2 linked regions of the Homo sapiens genome follow. The protein of the gene in region 2 interacts with the protein of the main gene of each other region in a pairwise test. Each region holds a gene or a part of one and is shown on either strand. Other genes may lie near its edges.

What was found.
Region 1: the proteins of CTNNAL1 (region 2) and AKAP13 interact in a two-hybrid assay, tested with the Homo sapiens proteins (one study listed by BioGRID).

What each region holds. Positions count from the first base shown.
Region 1 is NC_000015.10:85,579,603-85,583,423, reverse strand, and holds part of AKAP13 (A-kinase anchor protein 13), read right to left. Parts: coding exon 1,317-3,821; intron 1-1,316. UniProt on the Homo sapiens protein: Scaffold protein that plays an important role in assembling signaling complexes downstream of several types of G protein-coupled receptors.
Region 2 is NC_000009.12:108,978,945-108,982,765, reverse strand, and holds part of CTNNAL1 (alpha-catulin), read left to right. Parts: intron 1-3,284; coding exon 3,285-3,485; intron 3,486-3,821. UniProt on the Homo sapiens protein: May modulate the Rho pathway signaling by providing a scaffold for the Lbc Rho guanine nucleotide exchange factor (ARHGEF1).

The sequences.
Region 1 (3,821 bases), on a different chromosome or scaffold from region 2:
CATCAAAAATTCTACCTCGGATTCCTTAAATCCCTCAACTGGGGAGGAAAAAGATTATAAACGGCTAAAAGCCCTTTACCAGGGAAAATAACCACTGTATTTAAATTGCGCTTCTTCCAAAGCAACTTCTTTTGCTCCATTGATTCATTTCTCTCCATAACCCTCCCCCACATTCTTAATACATATGTGTAAAGGGATTTTCAAAAATTGAAAAGAACAGCAAAAATAAACAATAAAGACAAAACAGGCTGCTTCTTACCTACAAAAGCCTAGGGGCAAGCATGGAGATAGGTCTTCTGTCTACAGCTGGTAACAGGTGGTGGTATAGAAGTGTGCATCAAACTGACCTTTAAAGACTTCAGGAGCCAAGATCGTGTCCGACTCCCGTTTCAGCTTCAGCCTCAACCCCCGTTAAGAAGTTTTATTCAGATAGTTTATTTCCACGGAGCAATAGCGGTTTCTCTTTGCTGCCTCGGAACATGGTTACCCACAGATGGAACAGGCTGCTGTGTGAGCAATCTGCTCAGTGCAGCTGCTTCACCAAGATAAAGCAGACACAAGGTCTGCCCTGTGACAGCAGCTCAGCAGACTGGGCTTGGGCGGAAATCCTGCATCCTATCCCCTGCACTGTGCAGGGTCTTGAATTCTCAGACTGCTGCCCAAAAGCAACAGGCAATGGAACTAGAGGTCCACTCCCCAAGCAGGAAAAGGAAGGAGTTCCCCGTCAACAACACCCCTAGCCCAAAAAAAACAAAAACAAACAAACAAAAAACCACCAATGACCTAATACCACCATTTTGGATGTTGGGAAGTCAGCTCAGAACAATACTTACAGCTGTTCATGAAACCACTCTGACTCTAAATTTGCTCAGAATACAGACTAGGATGATAGGGGAGGAAGGGAGTTTCAGGCTTGTAGATAAAACACAGCTTTTTGGCACTGTTTTCTATGGTACTAGAGAAAAGGATTAAGCCATGTGAATAAAAACATCTGCTAAATTCTTTCACCACTTTAGAGTACCTGTGATCTAGGCATTGTTTTCTAGGTTTGCAAAGTTGCAACCACTCCAGAATGAGACAGGAGTGTTTATAAGCTTAAGCAACCAAGCAGTAAGTCTACAATACAGGAAGCAAAATCTGTCCAACCCTGAGATGACGTGCCCCTCCTGATGGTGGTGACTATTAACTTGGCTACCTACCCAATGAGTGCAAGGCCTCAAAACAACAAAGATGCCTATATTTTTACCAGGACACCACAGTGACTCTTAAGGGAATCTGCTTCTCAGACTGTTAATTTTGTATTATGTTTTGCTTACCTGCTGCTGGCTCAGGCCCCTGGACAGGTAAAATGATCTTCTCTGGCTCCTCCCTTCCAGCAAAACATCCTGCAAGGCTCCCCGTGGCTTCCTCAGGAGTACTGCCCATTGGTAGGCTCTCCCCAGGTGGGAAAGTACTCACTTTTTCTGTAAAAGCACTCTCTAGTCCTTTAGTGAGAGGACCCAACTCAGGGCTGGACAGTGACATGTGACAGGCCTCCCCCTCAGTAAGCAGTGCTCCAGCGGCCTTGACTTGTTCGATGACAGCATCCACTATACGGCTGGCAGCCTCCTCTATCAAGTCTGCCCCCTTAGGCAGAGGTGCGTCCTGGGCAGAGACCATGCAAGGTAGAGAGGGAGTGCTCCTTTCCCTGCCTGAAGGCGGGGCTCGCATGACTTCCCTCACACCAGCTGGGGCCCCATCATCATGGGCTGAGAGCTCCATGTCTGTGGGGAGCTCCTTGGCAACAGGCTGCAGTAGGACAGGATGTGCTTCATCGTCTATTTGGGCTTCCTCAGCGTCACCCATGGTACAGCTGTGGTCTGCTCCCTCCAGCTTCCCTTTCTCCCAATCAAGAGGTATCATCTCTGGGGTTCCAACTCCCTGTGGGTCAGTCACAGCTTTGTCCTGTAGAGCCACTGGCAAACCTAGAACGGCATTCTTCTCTTGGCTCAACAAGACGTTTGGAATCAGGATGTCTTGGGTGTTGTGTGATATATTCTCTCTTCTGGGCTCAGCCATACCTTGTAGAGCATTAACCCCTGTAACATCCACCGTCACATCTCCACTCACCTCACAGGCACTAGTTTTTCCCTGGGATTGAGTGTTCTTCACTCCAACATCCAGAGGAGAAGGCTGACTGCAGTTAAGAGCATCGGACCCATCAGACCCATCTGGCAACAGACATGGCAACAGAGCGGAGCTGTTGTGCTCTGCCCCCAAGGCTTCCTGCCTTGACTCTGTGGCCAGACTTGCTCCTGGTGGCACCAGGCTCTGGGCAGCCCCACCTTGAGTCAGCAGTGAGACTTGTGGGGCCACTTCCTTGTTATGTTCAGTTTCTGCCTTAAGAAAGGCAGAGGATGCACCCGGTGAATTACTTAGCTGAAGTGCTTTGTCCTTGGCACAGTCAGCTGAGATTGATTTTTCATGAAATTGTTGAGTATCTTGTCCAGGAGGTGGTGTTCTCTGCTCTTCCTGCAAAGTTCCTGAAGAGAGAGCATTTTCCTTAATAGAGGAACAGGTCACCGCTTTATCCTTATCTTGTTCCTGAGCTGCAGAGCTTTCTGAAACCACCAGAAGTTTTCCTTCTTCAGTCAAAACTGAATCTAAAGCCAAAGTGGCCTTACCCACACTTTGCAGGGAAGAGTCAGTGTTCCCCTTGATATTCAGAGCTTCTGGGATTGCTGGAGGGGCGGGACCCTCATGCTCTCCACCAAGTCCTGTGAGACTGGTATTCCCCATCCCGTGCTGAAGCTCTGCAGCAGTGGAGGATGTGGACAGGCCTACTGCCCTGTCTTCTAGTGGCCGCGTATCAGGCTCATTCGAATTTCCATCTGGGCCATCTCTATAATCTGTAGCTGTATGTAGTTCAGGAGTTGCTGTTCCCTTTTCTTTCTGGGAGGGGACAAAAGAAAGTGCGTCATCCTTGGTTACTGATTCACTGCCTGGACTGTTTGCCAGAGAGAAAGTACTGTCTGATATTACTGCCTGGTCTGGCACCAGTTCTTTCTCCATTTTAGGGACAACTGGATGTGGATGTGAAACCACCTCAAGCATATTTGTTAAAGGTTTATCTAGTTTCACATCTTTTCGTTGGCCTTTGTTATCCACCACTTTGAAAGGACAAAAATCCGCACGTTCCTGGGTATCCCTTACAGGGTCAGAGGTGACTGTATGAGCCTGTGGGTCTTCACAGTGGGAGGCATCGGGTGGATCTTGTGAGCTGGGTTGCCTTGCTGTGGTGCTTTCGGACTCGCTAACTATGTTATCACACAGTTTTGCAACCAAATCGCCACTAGAAGTCACTGTGTTCTGTTGACATGCAGAGTCTGCACAAAGTTTATCGTCTCCAGTTGTAGAACAAATGGGTGAGGATTTGCCCTTTTGGCTTTGAGCATGAGATGAATTTGTTTCTGAGTTCTGGTGTGGCATTACATCTTCTTCCAGCCCAAGAAGGGCTAAATCTGAGGGTGACATTGCCTCACCTATGCCTGCTGCTAAGAGAGTATAAGGTTCTAATCCATCTGAAATCTTGTCTTTTGCAGCAGCTGGAATCACCACAGAATTCTGATCTACTGGAGCATCAGCACTCTCCTCACGACTTCGTGAAGTTTCCGTTTCTGCTGTTTTTTCAGTGGAGGTTTCTTCATTACTAAATGCAAGTGAAGACTCAGCAGGTTTGTTACCATCCAGGGAACTGGCAGCAGGGGCACAGTTTGGAACACTGATTTTATCCACAGGCTTACTTGTGACGTGCACGTCAGAGGCTCCAGCTGTGCCAATAT
Region 2 (3,821 bases):
TGTATAGTATCCATATTTTTGTGTAATGTTTTAGAACAGTGCTTCACAAAAGCAAATGTATCTATTTAAAGCAATGCCACTCTGTACAAACTTGTTGCTCAGTAATATTTACATTAAAGGTGTATTTACAAAGAACACTGGTCTTTGGTTATAGTAGCTACTCTGGCTCTGTTTAGCTGTATGGTTTAGCTGTAGCCTCCTGTTCAAAAGAATGTTCCCTTCCTGTTTTTTGAGCAGTGCCATATCTTTTTGAGCAGTACCATCCATAGGATGATGGTGAGCAGCAAATCATTTCTGCTAGAATTCCTGCTTTTCTCTGTGTTAGAGGGTTGGTACTTTGAGACTATAGTAATAGTATTAGTAATAATTAAAATTTAAAAATCAACAGTAATACACACTAACAGTTATTGAGTCCTTATTCTGTGCCAGCCCTTTTCTGAGTGCTTTAAATATATGAACTTATATAATCCTCAAAGAACTATTGCTATTATTTCCATTACACTGTTGAGGAGCTTGAGAAACAGAAAGGATATTAACTTGCTGGCTACTAAGTACCAGAGTTGGGATTTGAAACTAGGCAGTGTGACTCCAGGAAGTCTGACTTCTCATCAGAAGTCATAGACATGGTGAAGATGCTTTCTGGGTAAGAGCAGTGTCTGAGTTGGGAGGGCCCTAAGAAGTCATCTAGTACAATGCCCTCCTTTAACAGATCAGAAAACTAAGGCCCTGAGAAGTTATCCAAATGCTAAAGGTTCCCACCTCTCTAACAGACAGGGCTATGATGAGAATGGCATTCTTTCCATTTTACTGCACTTTGATTTATTTTATTTATTTATTTTTGAGATGGAGTCTCACTCTTGTTTCTCGGGCTGGAGTGTGGTGGCACGATCTTGGCTCACTGCAACCTCCACCTCCTGGGTTCAAGCAATTGTCCTGCCTCAGCCTCCTGAGTAGCTTGGATTACAGGCACCCACCACCACAGCCGGCTAATTTTTGTACTTTTAATAGAGATGGGGTTTTGCCATGTTGGCCAGGCTGGTCTCGAACTCCGGACCTCAGGTGATCCGCCCACCTTGGCCTCCCAAAGTGCTGGGATTACAGGCGTGAACCACCACGCCTGGCCCTGGACTTTGATTTCTAATTGTGTGAAGGTCTAAGTAGGAACATGGGGTGAAAAGACAGTAATGGAAAGAATATCTCTTTTTGCTCTTAATAAATATTTTATTTAATCCCTACCTGCCCTTTAGGTGGATATAATTATATACTGTTTTTTTTTTTTTTGTTTTTTGTCTTTTTTTTTTGAGGAGGAGAGCTAGTAAGTGGTAGAACCCTTCTTTAGGCCCAGGATTCTCTAATCCCAAAGTCCATGACCTTTCACTTTACACCTCTGGGTTTGTTTATATGATGCCAGTCCTACCACTGAGTCTTCCTGAGGGGAAAGAAACTGTACAGACCAAACCTTCTCTTAGAAATTTTATTGCTGAAAGAGATCTTAGAGATTATTTTTCTAATCTTCCCTTTTTATAAATGCTGAAGGAGGAGATGTGTTGTCAAAGGATAATTAGGGAAACAAGTAAGTCAAGTGAGAGACATCTTTCACCACCTGCTGCTGCATTTCTAGTGCAGGTGAAGGAGGGGCAGTGCTCTGCCTGTGGCTGCTGCCGACAGCTCTGGCTGCTGCCCTCTCGCCATCAGGCATGCTGGAGGCAGAGCTGTTATAAATAGGCTCAGTCTCACTGTCCATGATTATCTCTTTGGCATCTTGCTTTTTTTCTGATGGAGAGTATAATCTATGGAGGGAAACTGGGTACTTTGCTGTATTTGGTACCATGAATATATGGACAAATGTTATGAAACCATATCAGTAAATAGCCTCTTTAAAAAAACCCCACAAAACTCCACTAAGTTGCTGTCTAAAAACATGTATATTTTCTCTCTAAAGGGAAAATAAAAAACCTTAACATAAATGGTATGAGACCAATATAACTGATTTTTATGTTTTAATTCTGTTTAAATTCTCAAATTTAATTCTCTTAAATTAATAAAATAAATTTAATTCTCTGAGAAGATCCCCATTGTAAATTCCATACCTTACTATTATCTGTATTCTTTCCTAGCTTAAATACAAGTTTCTGTCTACCTAGGATGGAGTGATCACCTGACACAACTTGGGCCAAGAGCAGGAGGGGAAGCAAGGACTCTCCTATGGCATCTTGACTTTCCCAAACTTTGATATTTTCATGGATGATGTTAAAATGGGTCACACATAAGGATTAATTAAAATAACATTTGTGAAAGGACTTTGAAGTGTTAAACAAATGTAAGGTATCCTTATTATCACATTCATTGTGACCATAATCATGATCATTACCGCTTGTTGCCTCTTGGCCCAAGTTGTCTGTGTGACATATTTCATGGACTGTAGTGTTTTACAGGGTTGAAATGGCATGATGCATCGTAGAAAGCTGAGAGAGAAAGACTGCACACATGAGCATGTGTTCATCACATAGTCAAGGAACTCCAAACAGGATGGCTGAAGTGAAAGGTTGTTAGGGGGTTCAGGGGGTGAGATAGACTGTTAGAGAAGTATATAAAGACAGGCCATAGAGGATTTTGTGCTATACTACATAGACGTTTGGGCTTGATTCTCTATAGATGGCGAGGAACTATTAGAGGGAGGTGGCAGTATCAGATGGTTTACATTTTAGATTATACAGACCCTCTGGTAGAGGATGTTTGGGTCAGTAAGGTGCTGTTGGGGACTTTAAACAAAATGTAGGGAGACCAGTTAGGTGACTAGGAGAGTCTTTGCTGAATTAACAAAGGAAAAATGGATGTCTTCCCCAGTGCTTCTCACACCCCACATCTTCCACACCATCCTTCCCCCTGGGCTCAGCACATTTCATATTTGGGTGTAACTTATCTTCCAGGACTTTGCCTAGGCATTTTCTCAGATGCAAATCTTTTACCTGGAGGCTGGTTCATTTTTCCTGCCAGTTGCTAGAGGATGATGCTCTTTCTGCCTTAGTATTCACTGATCTCATAGCAATGTCATTGTATTAATTACTCTAGGAATGGTGCTTTGCATGGATATTGAAGGCTTTTGAGCAATGTATCCTTCTGGGTTAGTGGCGAATATAGATATCATTGGTGGCTGTATTTCCCCTCAGCTTGGGAAAAGGAAATGCTAGTGTTTTCCTGGGCACTGTTAGAAATTACAGCCCATTTTGGTCAGGTGGGAATATTGACTCACATGGATGGATAGATGTCCTTTTTGTTCTCAGATGAATATTGAAGCTCTTCGGGAGAATCTTTATTTTCAGTCCAAAGAGAACCTTTCTGTGACATTGGAAGTCATCTTGGAGCGTATGGAGGACTTTACTGATTCTGCCTACACCAGCCATGAGCACAGAGAACGCATCTTGGAACTGTCAACTCAGGCGAGAATGGAACTGCAGCAGTTAATTTCTGTGTGGATTCAAGCTGTAAGAACTTTTTTTAAAATCAAAGTAAATCTTATATAATGGCTTTCCCATAAAGTTTTGCAAGATATGGAAGTTACATAATCACCAGGAGTATGAATTTGTTCCAGAATGGGACAGGATATCTCATCCCTTCTTTCCCTCCTAGTTGGCCAAAATATCCTTCCCATCTAGCACTTACAATACTTGACATTTATTTCCAGGCCTGTTGACTCTCATTCTAGCCAGTCTCAATTATATGCCTCTGTCACTATCACTAGTTCACACTGTTGTCCCTACTCTTCCACCAAACTCACCTCTGGAAAATTCCTCCCCAAAATACTTCTTCAGAGTGAAGAA